Linked DNA regions of Homo sapiens. The protein of the gene in region 3 purifies or fractionates together with the protein of the main gene of each other region. This does not show direct contact. Each region holds a gene or a part of one and is shown on either strand. Other genes may lie near its edges.

What was found.
Region 1: the proteins of RAP1GAP (region 3) and MEX3A purify together in Homo sapiens (affinity purification with western blotting, with the first as the bait; one study listed by BioGRID). This does not show direct contact.
Region 2: the proteins of RAP1GAP (region 3) and SKAP2 purify together in Homo sapiens (affinity purification with mass spectrometry; one large-scale study listed by BioGRID and IntAct). This does not show direct contact.
Region 4: the proteins of RAP1GAP (region 3) and CNR1 purify together in Homo sapiens (affinity purification with western blotting, with the first as the bait; one study listed by BioGRID). This does not show direct contact.

The regions. Positions count from the first base shown.
Region 1 is NC_000001.11:156,079,666-156,083,756, forward strand, and holds the start of MEX3A (RNA-binding protein MEX3A), read right to left. Parts: upstream 2,801-4,091; 5' UTR 2,334-2,800; coding exon 1,880-2,333; intron 1-1,879. UniProt on the Homo sapiens protein: RNA binding protein, may be involved in post-transcriptional regulatory mechanisms.
Region 2 is NC_000007.14:26,858,078-26,861,660, reverse strand, and holds part of SKAP2 (src kinase-associated phosphoprotein 2), read left to right. Parts: intron 1-3,583. UniProt on the Homo sapiens protein: May be involved in B-cell and macrophage adhesion processes. In B-cells, may act by coupling the B-cell receptor (BCR) to integrin activation. May play a role in src signaling pathway.
Region 3 is NC_000001.11:21,662,803-21,666,385, forward strand, and holds part of RAP1GAP (rap1 GTPase-activating protein 1), read right to left. Parts: intron 2,516-3,583; exon of another isoform or gene 2,409-2,515; intron 1-2,408. UniProt on the Homo sapiens protein: GTPase activator for the nuclear Ras-related regulatory protein RAP-1A (KREV-1), converting it to the putatively inactive GDP-bound state.
Region 4 is NC_000006.12:88,163,520-88,167,758, forward strand, and holds the start of CNR1 (cannabinoid receptor 1), read right to left. Parts: upstream 2,829-4,239; 5' UTR 2,284-2,828; exon of another isoform or gene 2,228-2,283; intron 776-2,227; exon of another isoform or gene 1-775. UniProt on the Homo sapiens protein: G-protein coupled receptor for endogenous cannabinoids (eCBs), including N-arachidonoylethanolamide (also called anandamide or AEA) and 2-arachidonoylglycerol (2-AG), as well as phytocannabinoids, such as delta(9)-tetrahydrocannabinol (THC).

The DNA.
Region 1 (4,091 bases), about 130 Mb from region 3:
TATGGAGGGTCACAAAACAGTGAACTCCCCTCTCCTACCATTTCTACTCACATATCGTTTGATGGGCACCTGGGTTCTGGCCGTAAGTTTTGGGTCCAAAAACTTAAATGAGAGCTAGGTATCTTTAGCGGTTGGGGTTGGGGTGAGGAGGACAGGCCAAGGCATCGAGTAAGAAGAAACGCTAGAGGCCTGGAGGTGCAAAGCTGGTGGTGGGTCTCTTCCTGGGTTCTGCAACCCCAAAGAAGCATCTCTTGAAGGGAAGACCCACTGGGCTTCACCTTCCTAGAGGTCAAACAGAGGAGCACTAACACTGCAGCAGGAGGAGGGAGGTTAGACAAGAGGGAGGACTTCCATATACTTGACTGAGGGGCAGGCTTATCTTTTGTGAATAAAAATCCCCTTACTTTTATGAGGGACAAGCCCATCTGATGCGGAGGCAGAAGAGGAAAGAATGACTCCATTAAATTCCGGGGCCTCCCAAGACCACCCCCACACCCAAGAAAAGATAGCAATGTCCGTCCCCACCCAATTCCAGGGCTTTGGATCCCCAGTTTCTGACAAGAGGAAATCCAACTTTCTAAATCAGAAATCTCAAGAGATGGAGTGCCCCAGGGGGATGAGGGCTGTGCAGGGGAGTGGCATCTTCCCCTCCTCCATTCTGGATCTCTCCGTGAAATCCCCCTAACCCCCAGCACTCCCAGTGGATAAGGTGGGATGTGGAGTAGGGGCCCCCCTGGCCCGCCTCCCCTTTTCCTCTGCCAGAAGCTGGCCTCCTCCCGCACTCCCAGCCGGAATGCAGCTCCTCTATTGTTCCCCACTGTGGGACAGCTCCTCCCCCACCCCACACCTCCCCAGCCCAGCCTCTTTGCAATTTCCAAATCCTGCCCCCCACACTCTCCTTTGAGAAGCCAGGAGAGGGAAGGGTCCCCAAGATCCCGTCTGCTCAATTTGGACCTTCACCAACACCCCCACTCACCCACCCAGGGATGCTGGAGCAGCAGAGGGTGTGGTACCAGACATACTACGCTGGATTAATTCTGCACCCCCTCCCAACACACCCAGACACACGCCCTCCACCAAATTTCCAGGTGAAGGTTTCTTACCCCCCAGCATTCCCCCTCCTACCCTGTCCTACTCTTTCACTACCAGAGACCCCTCTCTAGGCCTCTGGCCCAAGGCCGTGGCCAGCCCAGAACAAAAGCCAGAGAGGGAAGAGGAGAGGTCCAAGCCAGGACGTAGCACTTCCTTGGAGACACCCCTTCCAAAACCCCAGAGACAATCCAACTTTGGGGTGTGGGTGACCACAGGACCCCCTCCTCTCAGCAGCCCCCCTCACCGCCTCTTCCCCAGGCTGGGACCCTCCCCTGGGCCACACCCCCTTCCATTCCTACACTCAGCCCAACAAAGAGACAGATACTCAGTCTGGCTTCGAGGGCCAGGTCTCCCCCAAAGTCTGTAACTCCAGGCGGCTGGGGGCCCCAGGGATGCCCCCTCCCCAGCCTAGGAGCAGATACCAGAGTACAGGCTTCTGAGTAACTCTTTGCACATTCCGTCAGTTTTTCTGGTTAGGAGTGGACACCCCCTCAGGACAGCCTCCCTGGATTGGGAGACCGATCCCCTCCCCTTTCCCTCTTCCAGTGCGAGGATATTTCTTTGTCTAAAGGCAGAGTCCTGGGGGAGGAAGGATCTGGAGAACCGTCCCGACTAGGGGTAACGGGGAACTTTGTGGCACTTTGAAATCAGGGTAGGGGGCGGGTCCCCCTTTGTGGGGAAGGGACAGAGCCGGAGGCGGGCAAGAAGGGAAGAAATGAACTTTCCGCGCTAGGGACGAGGGTGCCCCCACTACAGTCCCTCTCAGTGGTCCCGGCGCCCCGCTTACCTTGCCTGCCCACGATCTCGGCCACGTGCTCGGAGGTGGGCACGGGAACACACTCCGTGGTGTTGCTGCTGCCCTTCAGGCGCAGCTCGGCCTCTTTGTAGAGAGCGCAGAGCTTGGCGTCGCTCGCCCCTTTGGGGGCGGTGGGGGGCTGGGGCGTCTGCGCTGCGGGGGCCGCCGTCGGGGCGGCCGGGGGCGCCGCGGGCGGCGGCGGCGGGGCCGGCTGCGGGGGGGCGGCCGGCTGCGCGGGGGCGCCGCCCCCCCCACCTCCCCCGTCCTCGCCCGCCGTGGGGGCGGGGGGCTCCCCCAAACCCAGGAGGCAGAGTTGATCGAGAGCCAGCTGAAGGGCGCGCTCGTCTTCCAGCAGCCCTCGGTCCTTAGCGCTTCCCCCGAAACATCCTAGTTCTCCAAAGCCCCCATTTCTTTCCATTATTCCAGATACCACTAGACTAGGCATGGCGAAACAAAAGCTGGGGGAGAGAGAGAGGGAGAGAGAGAGAGAGAGGTGGTGGAAGGGAAAAGAGGAGAGAGGAGGGGAGGGGAGAGGAGAGGAGGGGGTGTGTGGGGAGGGGGGAACAAAGAACTGGGGAGGGGGGAAGAAAGCGAGATAGAAAGATAGACCCTCCCCCTAAGCCCCCCTCCCCAAACACCCTGTAACCCGACTCCCCTCGCCCCAGCCCCCGGGGTGGGGGTGGGGGGAAAGAGAAGCAAAACCAAGAAAGCAGATCTCCTCTCCTCTCCGGGGGTGACGGGGGGCGGGGGGCTGCAGGATCTCTGCCCCCACCCCTCCCGCCTCGGACCTGGGAGTCTCTAGCCCCCGCTGTCCAGGCGCCCCCGTTAGGCTCCCGCACCGAGCCCCAGTCCGGGAGCGGCGCTCAGTGGCCCCCAATAGAGCCCAGCCCCTTCCAGCGCTCAAACTCTTTTGTTTTAAATGAACTGGATGGAGCAGCATGAAACTGACGGGAGGGGGGCGCGCCGGGGGCGCCCGGGGCATGCCGGGAGTTGTAGTTTCCCGCCCTTGGGGGCGCGGGGACAAATTCCTTGACCCGAGGAGGATAGGGATGTGGCCTTCGGTCTTTCCTCGCAGCTCCGGGGCAAGCTAGGAGTGGGATGGAAGTCGAGGTCCCTAATTTTTTAAGGGGAGGGTGCGGGGAGAAGGGGTAGTATGCGGAAACAGAGCGGGTATGAAGCTGGCTAACGCCGCGCGCCCCCTCCCAGGACCCGCTCCTGCCCCGCGCCGGCCGGTCCTGGGGGCCCGCTTTTTTATGGAAATGAGGAGGGGGGGCCGGGGCCGGGGGCGGGGAGCCGGGAGCCGTCCCCGCTCGCTCACTGCGGCTTTCTCTCTCGCTCCCCTCTCCCCGCTCCCTGCCGCGCTCACTCTCCGCTTCCCCCTCCCGCTCTCCCAGAGTCGATCCCGGAGCCCGGCCGCGGGGAGAGGTTCTCGGCAGAGAAGACAAAGCCCGCAGCAGCGATGGGGGGAGAGCTGGGCTCTGCGTGTTGTGGGGGCCAGGAAAGGGTGCCAGGCTGGGGCTGGAACCCCCTGGCAAAGGATGGGGTCCCCTCATCCCTAAACAGCAAGCCATCTCCCCTCGCCCGCCCCCCGCCCCCCCAGTCTCGGAGATCTCAGAGGCACCGACTGGGAGGTGAGTTAGTTCACGTCCTTCTGCTCGGTGGAGGGGGTCGGGAGGGCGGTGGAGTGATGAAGTGCAGAGGTTGAAGGAGTGCAGGGACAGAACTGGGGGTCGGACGGAGAGTGGGCAGGCAGGAAAAGTCTTAAAGGCCTGGGGTGACTTAACCGTTTGGGGTGAGGGCCTTGAGCTTTGGATATGACAGGAGGGAGGAGAGACCAGGATGGACTGGGAACCCAGGCTTCCTTCAGGCCTGGGCTGTGAATACAGCTTGGGGTGATCTGTCCTTTAGCACTCATCGTAATTTCCACTCTGTTTCCTCCACCTCTCTCCCATTGAAAACCTATTCAGGGCCGGGCGCGGTGGCTCACGCCTGTAATCCCAGCACTTCGGGAGGCAGAGGCGGGTGGATCACCTGAGGTCAGGAGTTCGAGACCAGCCTGACCAACAAGGTGAAACCTCGTCTCTACTAAAAATACAAAAATTAGCCGAGCATGGTGGCAGACGCCTGTAGTCCCAGCTACTCAGGAGGCTGAGACAGGAGAATTGCTTGAACCCGGGAGGCGGAAGTTGCAGTGAGTCTAGAT
Region 2 (3,583 bases), on a different chromosome or scaffold from region 3:
AAAAACCATTCCATAGAAATGTAAAAAAAAAAAAAAAAAAAAAAAGAGGTTGTTATTGTTAACTCACATGTGTTGTGTAAAGATACCATTGAAAAAGTGGCTATCTAGTTTGATTTTTAGTTATATTTTCTGTGGAGTCAGTCTTGAAGACCTATGCTTTTTATAAAATGTTGATTATTCTTTTGGTTATATGAACAGAAAAGGACTTACAGAATTTCGTTGTTGAAAGCAAATTTTGAGCTGCCATATGCATTACAGGCAACCTTTGATTTTTTTCTTTTCTACAACAATGGAAAAACAGGTTTAGCCTGGATAATTGAAATCAAAGGACAATCCCAAATCTTGTCCATTTAATCTTCTCTCACATCCAAATATTTTGACTAGGACTAGCAGCAAGAATAATCTTGATTTATGTGATTTTTTTTTTTCTCTAGACAGGCAAGAAAGTAAGAGGAACTAGAACCACTTCCCTCCAGCCTCCTTCATTTGTTTAATCACCCTTTAAATAATGGTTTGTTAGTGGCTTGCAATCAGACCTTCTCATTCATCCTCATTCATTTGTTTTAGGACAACAAATTTTAAAAGGAAAGCTCTAAGAAGATGTTATTTTCTGTTTACTAAATTAGCAAATGAAACCATTGTTAAAAGAAGAAAATAGTGATTGTTAGTGCTCTGAAAAATCAAACCAAACCAAACAAACAATAAATAAGTGATCTTGAGGTTTTGTTCACATGGCACTCTTGATTAGAAATACCACATTTTCCCTACTGGGAATTTTTAGAACATTAGAAAATTTTTTCCCACACATTGATTATAATGTGTGAATATTTTTTTCACACAATATTATTTAGGGTATGTAATCAGTCCCCTAAAGGGATTCCTGTAGGGGCACTAGGTGAAGAGTGCAATTTATTTGAAATAGAGGCAGAATTTTTTCAATGCTGAGTATATTACGGTTTAATTTCCACCTTTCCAAAGTTCCATTTATAATTTGGTCAACATTTTGGTTTTATTTTTCCTATGAGAATTATTTATGGTGTATCTAGTGTCCCATAACTTCCTTCTGGGACATTGGCTGAGTATGTAAAGGGAAGAGTGCCACCTACTGAGTCACCAATAGTCACCTACCTCCTTAGCACCTGGGTTTTCCTATGGAGCAAGAACAAGCCTGCCCCATTTGGGCAGCAATCACTAAAGAGCATAAAGTTGATATGAGAACATTTAATCTCAAAATGAAATCTATCGTACCTCCAAGATATTCTTTTCTAGAAATAGGAATATATGTAAATTAAGGGACTAGAGGTTTACAGAGTTTTTTGTATGGGCTAAATAATATAGATGAATTAAGATGTGGTGTTAGGAAAATTATTTGCCTATTTTAAGTATATAATGTCCTGCTTTTTCTTGGGAGGAGATCTTTTGGCATGGCTGTCCATTGAAAGTATTTTCATCTCATTACTATATAAGGCTCTTGATACTACGTACAGTTTTTATAGCTACCCAATCCAAATTATCATTGGTTTTCTTCAAAAAGAAGAATCTAAACATATTAAAAAATTAGCATTATATGAAAAATTTGCAAATGGGCTTATTGCTCCTGTTACCAGCATTAAAGTATTACTAGAAAGAAGGTAGACACAACAGAGTAGGAAAAGCTGCTGGTGATTTGAAACACAGTTTAGTTGTCTCATAAATTTCAGATTAAGTGTCATATATGGGTGATAAAAGTGGCATAGGCTAGATTTTATATACTCATGATTCACTTAGTTTGTCTTTTTCAATTAAAGCTAAGTCTCTTTTTCATTCCACTGAATTTACATTTCTTTTTCAATCACATTCTGAACACATTACAATAGATGCTGCCTAAAACTGAATATAGTGTAAATCTCAGACTAATGTGTTATTCACTGTGGCTTCTTTGAAAATATGTAGTAAAAAGATTTTGATTATTGTAAGGTGCTATTTATCAAGAGTCATCTTTTAGGGTTGAAAGATGTTCAGCCCTACCTTTAAACAGCCCAGCTTTCTATCAAAATACATCATTTAGCTTCCCAAAGTCAATTTTGGAAATTTTGTCCAATGATTGGATTGTAAGACTCTGGTATTTTTTACCCATTGTACCATGAGAGCTCTTGTGCCAGTTCATGTCACCTTTTCCATGTTTGAAAAGTCCACAGTTCATCTGTAACCTGTAAAAGTGCTAAGTAATCAGGGAAAGACATCAGTTAGAACAATCAATAACTTTTCAATTAGCCATTTTCCAACTTTGGGCATTTGGCTCTGTTGATTTGCATGTGCCCAGTTTAATTGATTTTTATGTTTATCAGTACCTGTTTGGTCAGAGCCATACCCTGCTTTAACAGAGAAGAGCATGTCTTTTTTTTTTTTTTTTCCTGATGGTAGCTTACATTCTAGGGTAGGATCCCTATCATATTAAGTTTGGTGACAGCACATCTCAATGAAAGCAGAGAGAAATCTGGCCCAATTCACAATGTAGAGAGAGATGTGGAATTAAGTTAGAAAGGCCATGGGGGTGCTGTGTGATTGGTTTTACCTTTATTTTATTGATCTGCGGCTAAGCATATGGTGGTAGATTCAGCCCAATTCTTGCGCCCTCCCCCTCCCCCATACAATTCAGGCCATCACAGAGGCTGAGTGTGTGTATATGCATGGGCCAGGAGGTATTGGGTGGTTGGAGGACTAGGCAGGAAGAGGAGGTGTTACCTTTGTGACTTGTTTTTAACCTCCAGTATGCAAGCCCTATTCTAGGCTGTTTGATAGTCGGGGGTGGTGAGGACAAGTGGCCAAACTGCTTTTCAAGAGTGGGAATCTGTGCTAGATACTACATCCAGAAGCTGAGAGTTACTTTATCATTTGCAAAAAAATTTAAACTGTTCTGACCTGGTGTAGTTCCACCTTTTCACTATGTGATCTGTGTAGAAGTTGGCAGAAAGCAGTTAGTGTGTGTGTGTTAGATACTTGTCCCAACCACTTGCGACTCCAGGGAAAGGTGGGGTGGCTGTTTTTTAGGAGGTCTATATGTTAAAAGGGGGGAAAAAGGAAGATTGGAGTACTATTCAGTGATTTGGTGTGTTTGCCTCTTAGGGGTCTCCATGGCAATTGAGAGATTTCTAACTTAAACTGCTCAAGATTGCTGAGCCAGTATACGTCAACTTTTAATTTTGTTTTCAGACCTTAACATTTATCGACAGAGCAGTTGTAAATCTGATCTTTTCAGAGGCCTTCTCCCCCAGATCCTTACAGCTGTACCGTGAGATAAGGTTTACTCTTGACAGTGTTAAGGTGTATTAGGAGCTAAAATCCCATCACGTTTACTTTCACCAGGATAACTTTTTCCTGCTGATGACTTGGGCTGGGGTGGAGGCTGATGGAGATAGGGGTAATTCTGGGGTTAAATGCAAGCAGTGTAGACTCTGCAGTCTATTTGGCTGCCGGCCCGGAGGCAGGAGATGGGGGTGGGTGGGGGTAGTTAGACCTGGTAGTTAAACCCTTTCCCGCGGGCGCAGAGTGGGCCTCCCACGCTTCTCTCCCGTGGCCAGTATGCGTGAGAGTGTGAGTTGAG
Region 3 (3,583 bases):
TCACCAGCTGGGTGACCTGGGGCAGGCTATTTAACCTCTCTGAGCCCTTGAGGGTTGCTAAGAGGATTAAATGAGATAGATCCATGAAAAGTGCTTACATAGGGCCCAGCACACTGCAAGTGCTCAATGAATGCCCCCACCTGCATCCAATTGCTCAGGCCCCATCATGCCTCCCCCCATCCAGAATCTTCCTAGAATTCCTGAGCTAGCTGCCCACTTCCCACCCTGACTGCCATTGGGTGGGCCCAGCATTGTAGAGTTTGTGCAGGACCCAGGCTTCTCTGCCCTTCGGAGGACTACAGAGCCCACACCTCTCCAGCCAGGGAGGGCTGTGGGCTTTGGGGACTCGGACAGGTGAGGTCTTTGTCCCAGCGGCTCTGCCCAGTCCTGTTTCTAGAGGCAGGGAGCCCTGGGAGAGGGGCTGTAAGGGCAACCCTCTATCCCTGGCAGAGCTCCCACACCTCAAGTGAAAGGCAAGTGGTGAATGAGGCAAGGCTAGAGTCTTCAGTCCCATGGCATCCTGAGCCTGCTGCCCGGGTGGGCACAGTGCCTACAGCAGTCTGCCAGCGGGTGGATGGCCTCTCTCTGGACCTCCAACACAGGGGAAGACGCAAGAGGCTGGTGATGGTGACATCAGCTCAGGCCTTGTCCTGGCAGCCTCTCGAGGGTCCCTGACGCTGCCAACTTTTGAGCAAGAAGAATCAGGGCTGCCCTGGCAGTTCTGGCACCGAGCTTGCAGGCAGGAAGAAGTTCCCAAGGTCACCCTCCATCAGCCACCTCCACCCTACCCCTCGAGCCCTGAATCAAGGAGTGAGGCCTTGGAGAGGGCTGTCCTCTGAGCAGGGTACTGGGGTGGCTTTCCCTCGCAGAACTGGGGCCCAGAGTTCAGGAGCCAAGCAGAGGGCTGGACCCATCTGCCCCACCTCCACCTTCCCTCTGCTGCCCCCACAGCCTGGCTGCGGCAGACACATGGCTCCCGTGGCCTTGAGAAGGTCACAGCCTCTGAGGTGGCTCAGGCATCTGATCCTCACCCACTGCCCCCAAACCCCAGCCTTGCCAGCAGATCCACCGTCTCAGGGGAGTCTGAGGAACAGGTACTGTAGTTTCAAGAAATACTGCAATTCCCCCAGAGATACAACAACACACTTGAGGCTCACACAACACAGTCACCAGCTTCAACTCATGGGAGCTGTACTGCAAAGACAGAAACTACATCCTCCCATTCCACAGATGGAAAGGGAGGCTCAAAGAGGCCGGGCGGCTTGCCTGAGCTCACCCAGCTAGTGGGGTGGGGCCAGAAGCGGAACACAAGGTTCCTGACTTCCTGAACCAATGACAGCCCCCGGCTCTCCAGCTCTCATAGCAACCTAGTTCCCGGGTGGCTTGGTGCCTTGATCCTCTTGCCTGCCCCTGGGATGGAAGAGGCTGGAATCCTCTCCTTTGCACACTGGGAGAAAATGAGGCCCAGGGAAACAGGCGAGGGGGCCATCCTTACACAGCAGTGGCAGGGCAGAGAACTACGCCAGGTGGTTCCTCATTCCAGGCTAGTGGGCTCAGCCTGCCCCTCCCGTGTATCCTGCATTGATTTTGGGGAAATGCAGACTCCTCGGCCTGCCATTCAAGGCCCTTAATAGACTGACCCCGATTTGTCCCTACCCCCACCTTCCATGAATCCAACCCAGTGTCCACATTGCCACCCCCAGCCCTTGCCCACGCCGTAGCTGGTCTCGCCTCCAGGAGCGCCTCCACTTCTCCTCTTGCTGTGCAACTGGTAATTCTACTACTAACATTATCACTTACTGAACACCTAATATGTGCCAGGCAAGGACTCCTCAAGGAGGAAACTTACCCAGCTCACCTGGTGATAGCCATGCCAACTACTTTGGAAATGCGAAGTTACGGAAAAAATTCTCACTACTCTCAAAACACTGAAGAAAAGGCTTATTATTTTTTTTTTCTGGCTGTAGAGAAGTATTGGATGTTTTTAGAAAAGATTTTTCTCCAGATTTGTGTTTGCTTTTCCTTCAGTGTGTCTCTCTGTGTTTCTCTGAGTGCAGCTTTATATTTTTCAAAGCAGTTCCCAGCCAGTATGTCTGGCCTCGCAAACAACATCCCCAGGGAGGCAGGCAAATAAAAGCTCGTCATCCCCGTTCTAGGGAGAAAGAAATGAGGCACAGAGAAGGCAGGTGATTTTTCCAAAGTCACACAGCAGAGACTGGATTTGGCATTCTGAGGACTCCCAATCTATGTCCTTTTAGACCCAGCAGAATGCCTAGGATAAGCTGGGCACTGCCCTCAGTGTTTGCTTGCATTCACCTTCTTATCCCTTGAAACATACTCATCAGGCAAGTGCTATGATTCCCACTTCCTAGATCAAGAAACAGACTCAGAGGGAGAGAGGAACTCACCAAAAGTTGTACGGCTGCTCAGTGGCAATGTCAGAATTCGAACTTGGGTCTGCTTCCTCCGAATGGGGGTCCGAGGGAGGGTGGCCTCGGTTGGCAGAGGTATTAACCTGTAGAGTGGGCAAGTCACTTTCTCTCTTTGAGCCTCACCTCCTCATCTGACACAAAGCACCGGGCTGTGGCAGGGACCACAGGACCCAGCTCATCTCTGTGCCCCAGTGCCTGTCACAGTCCCTGGGATCCACTACATGCTCATTAAATGCTTAGTGAGTAGGCACACGAGGCTGCTCCCATTGTGCTGGTGCAAAGCAGGAGTATCATGTTTTGCTTCCTTTCTTGCAGTAGGAAAGGCTGGAATCCCAGTGGGACCTTTCTGTTTTGGGGTGTCTCCCCACCAGCACTCCTCTGCCTCTTTTCCCTTCTTCCTCTCTGAGTCACCACCTGCCTGACAGTGCTGGTCTTTAGCCCTAAATATAGAGCACATTTTGAGGCATAAAATGTCCACAAATGTGAGCAACATAGCTGCAGCCCACTGCCCTTGGGTACCCTCCTCCTGGGCTGACCCCAGGGTGGCCGCCCCAAGAAGCCCTGAGACTGGCGACCCCTGCTTGGCCCTAGTGTGGATCCAGAGGCTGCACTCTGCAGGAAGTCATCAGCCTGGGGCCCCATGGGCCCACACTGCCACCAGAGCCCAACTTCCTTTCCTTATTGGCACAGGGCTGCCACCTCACACCTCTGACTTTCCTCATCCCCCAGCCAGGCTGAGCTGCCTCCCAGAGCTGGAGCTGGGCCCAGAGAGGGAAAATGACTTGTCCGGGCCACACAGCCAGCAAGAGGCAGGGCCAGGCTTGGACAGGGAATCAGCACTCTGGCAGGCTTGGTGTGAGTGCCGAGGGAGCATGGTGGAGCTGGGAGCCCCTCCCCATCTAGCATGTCTGCCCTGGAGGCCTCACCTAAGCCCACAGAAGCACCTCTCCACAGCGCCAGTCTCTCAGAGGCACAGGGTGCCAGGGCCAGCCTGGCAGAGGTCCTGGCATGCAAGGAGGTGAGCAGAGAGTGCTGAGGGCTCCCTTCCCTTCACACCAGCTGGCCCCCAGCCTTGCTGGGAGGACAAAGCAGAAACTGGGGCCTGGTAATGCCTCTAGCAAAAGTGGAAAGGAAAGGGAACCCCAGAGCCG
Region 4 (4,239 bases), on a different chromosome or scaffold from region 3:
CCCCGTGGTTAATGTTAATTTTGAGTCAAAGCAAAGAACAGTGTTATACGACTGTTTTGAAACAGTTTCTCAGGCTTTGCCTTAGTAATTAATAAGCTGACACTGCATACTAAACACTTATCAACACAATCAATGGGGCTGCTTCCTTCTTGGGAAAATAGGTAAACCGAATCAAAGAGTTTTCTTTTGGAAGAGGCTGAAATATGCCACAAATACAGTGGTTCTTTTTGAGAATTTCATTCCCAGCAGTTTCATCTTGGTAACATTTAACAATTTCACTATTTTACCATTTTGAAATGCCAAAAAGAACACACTGATCCTGCAGCTAGGCTTATTAGAGAAGAGCAATCTCACAGGCAAGACAGAGAGGAACATGGTCCACTGGGAAATGGGTAACAGAAAAAGACAGAAAACAGTGGATAACAAACAAAGCCAAGCACTACTTCAATGTGAGACCTGGTGTTCATCAGAATTTAAAACTTTACACACTAAATAATAATCACTTATGGCTTATTTAAGGTTCTAGTCATAACATTCTTTTTACATACATATATTAATGTTATTAAAATTCAGGGGCATGAATATCTAATTTGCTTTCCTAACAACGAGTATGCAAGCACAGTAATTTTATTTGTGAAAGGCCAGAATTGGGTATTTCCACCTTGTGGCATCATTGTACCCCCATGGACACTGAGAAACACAATGAGACCTCTCCCCATCAGACACTTGATACATACCTCAGCCAAGAGCGCTCCTCGCCTGGAGTGGGAGACATCTTTGAAACAAAAAGAGTCGGTTTACAGTAAGTTCTCCTGATAAGCTAAAATGGATTAGTTTTTTAAAACCATGTCCCACATCAAGTCTCTTGCCCCACTATGGTAACTGCCATTGTGCCTACAAATAAGTGCCTGTAGTATGCAATGTTTAAAATTCTGGAGGTGCATGTCTTCTGCTCATGTATGGATATAATCTGAAAGTAATTTGTCTCACTTAAGAAACTATAAATGGCCTTTTATTTTTATAAAATTGCTCTTAACTGAGTTAGAGAGCGGGGGAGGGGGAGGAGTACCAGGGAAAAAAAGGACAGAGAAAAATCAATTAGTGTATCTTCCCTTGCAAACTGTCAGTAGGGTAGGATTAGAAAAGCAACACTTTAAATCACATAAAGTCCTATGGGAACCTTAAAGGTTGGTTGCTCTGAGCTTCTCAATATTCTGCAAAATAGATTGATGTCAGTGGTGACCCCACTAATACTCAGTGTCCGCTAAGCTTCCTCTAAGAAATTGCATTTCCCCCATTGTTCAAAAGATATTAACTTGGTAATAAAAATGAGGAGAAGTTATGGGACCCACAGAGATATCTTTCAACACCTTTAAAACCAGTAAATCTGTTCTAATCTCTTATTGGATTACATGCCCGAGGAGGCTTACTATATCAGGAAATCAACAACAAAGGCAAGAATAGCACTTATTTGGAGGAAAATAAAAAAAGATGGGAGGCAAAATGATTAATACGTTACTAAACATTTCTTTTGTTTTTTTATCTGTTCAATTTTAAATATCTGAGAGACAATCTATTAAAATCAGAAACATGCATGTTGCTTTTAAACTTCCAAATGACCAAATGACAGTTTCTCATGTCTATTACAGCAAACATATTTTTATTTGAGAGGTGATCCGTTTATGATTTGTAAGCCTTAACAAGAAATGTCTTTTAAAAATGCAACATTAACTTTAGTCATCTAACAGCTAGTTCTGAGTTAAACGGTTCCATCAACATTCAATTTTAGGTATTAGTTACATGGACATTTGTTTTTCCTCAAAGAGAAGTGGTTCCTGTAGCTTTTTATCAAAAGTTTATTATTTGACATACATCTCTTTATATGACATTTACTATTTTACATTAGTCAGTTTCTAGGCTTGCAGCAGAGATCGATGTATTTCCCTGGGAAGACTTAGCTGCTAACATGGTTTATAGGCATTCAGCACCAACTCAAGCGCCCGTTTTTCAAACATGCACAATTACCCATTTTCTACAAACAGACATCAGTGCATACAGAGCCAGGTGCACACACATTCAATAAATAGTAAATGGTAGAAATCTCCAGAAGTAGAACAGATCACAGTTAACAGGCTGGGGCCATACAGCTAAGTAAACACCGACGCACGATTCGCTCACACGGAATAAGAACTCCACGAAGGACACTTGGGGACCACACTGGTCGTACCCGAGGGGGCGGGAGGCGGAAAAAGTATTTCCAAACGCAACTCTGCCAGGTCTTACCCTTCGCATCCCCTGGTCCTCGGGACAGAAGCTCCCTTGGCACCTCTCGCCCAGCTCAGGGGCTGGTTGTCCGCTAGAACGAAATATCCCCCACTGACTACGGAGAGCTCTGCAGGGAGCCGAGGCCCCCGCCCGGGCCAAGGGAAGGCGCTGGCGCCGCGGGAGACAAGAAGAGGCGGAGGCGGAAAAGAAGTGGAGAAGGAAGGGGTGGCAGAGGGAGTAGCGTGCGGGAGGCGGCGCCGGCGCCGGGCTGCTGGCGAGGCGGGGTGGGGTGGAGTGGGGTGTGCCTCCGGCGGGCGGTCAGCAAGTCAGTCCGTCCGAGCGCCGGCGTCCCGGTCTCCAGCGCCCGCCCGCGACAGCGACCGGGACTGGCGCCCCGCTGCTCCGACCGCCGGCGAGCCTCGCCCCTTCCCAGGCTCTTCACTGGGTCCTCCCGCGAGCCCCGCCTGGCCCGGCGTGGGGCCGCCCGTCTCCGCCAGCCCGGGCGCCCGTCGCCTCGTCCCGCTCGCGCAGTCCCTGCCGCTCCCTCCGCTCGCGCTGTCTCTGGCTCCCTCTCGCTCCAGTCCCATTTATGAAGCGCGGTCCCATCACGTGTTAATGAGCCTTTGTCCTGCCCTGGCAGCGGCGGCGGCACAGACCCCGCCGAGGGAACTGCGCGGGGAGGGACCTGAGCGCAGCGCCCGTAGCCCCAAACTTTGCTTGGGGCGGGGGACCCGCCGCGGCGCCAGCCCTGGGGCCAGAGGGGACAAGCCTCTTCGGCCCGCGTCACCTACTTCTCCTCTTCCTCCTCCTCCTCCGCCGCCGCGCTCCCGGAGGCCCCCGCTGCCATGACCTCGCTGTGCTCCCGGATACCCTCACACCCTGACCAGGCCAAGAAGGGGCTGGTGCATGCGCCGCCCACGACCTCGGGGCCATTAATCACACGCTCCCGGGCAGCGCGCATCGCCAACACCTTCCGCGGGGGTCACGTCTGGGGCAGCGGGCTGAGCCGGAAGGGGAAGGGGAGCGGGAGCCCAGAGGCCGAGGCGCGCCGGGCCCGGGGGTGCGGTCTCGCGCCCCCTCCCTCCGCGCAAGGCCGCTCCCGTGGCAGGCGGCAGCGAGCTGGGCCCGGGGCCGGGCTGAGCTTTGGGACCGCGCTGCGCAGCCCCCGAGCCGTTCGCTACCTGGCTGCGGTCGCGCGGCCACCTGTCCTCCGCCCTCGGGGCGCCGCCCAGCTTCGCGCCAGGCGCCTTCTCCAGCGCCCGCCGCCCTTTCCCGGCGAGACCACTCGGGCGCGCCCCGCCCGCCGGTCCCCGATGCAAACAGTTGGGCTCCGTAGGCGGCTGGCTCCGCGCCTCCCGGCCCGGCGCGCCCCCTCCCCGGCCACCCGGGGCCCCGCTCCTCGCACCTTTTCGCTGGAGGAGGACGCCCCACTCCAGGGCCGGACTGGGGGCTCTGGGACTCGGGGGCGGCAGCGGCGGGCGCCTGGGGAGCCGCGGTGTGCTCAGCAGCCGCGGCAGGAATTAGGGGACATGCTCGTTAATTGTTTCCACTATCAGCCGCCGTCTGCCTCCTGTGTGCACGGATCAAACCTTAATTGGTCTTTACATTTATCATGGTGAATTGCGAACCTCCAAACAAGCCTGGGCCGCCGCTTCTGCCGAGGAGGCGCTCCCCTCCCCTCCGCCCCCGGGGCCCTGCAGGGTGTGCGGCGGCGGTCGTGGTTATTTAGACATCTTTATCTCTCGTGAGTTGGATCGGGAGAGGATCGCACGGTTTCCACCTGACGGAGCCACGTCACGTCGGCCACAAGGGCCCCGTGCTGGGCGCTGGGTTCGGTTCCCGGCCGTCCTCTTGTGGCCGCCTTGGCGTTCATTTTATGACACCTTGCCGGTGTTCCCAGACATCATCCCGCACCGCTCCGTTTTACCGACCTCCAGGTCTTCCCGCCCCTGATCAGACCCCAACAGCAACCGT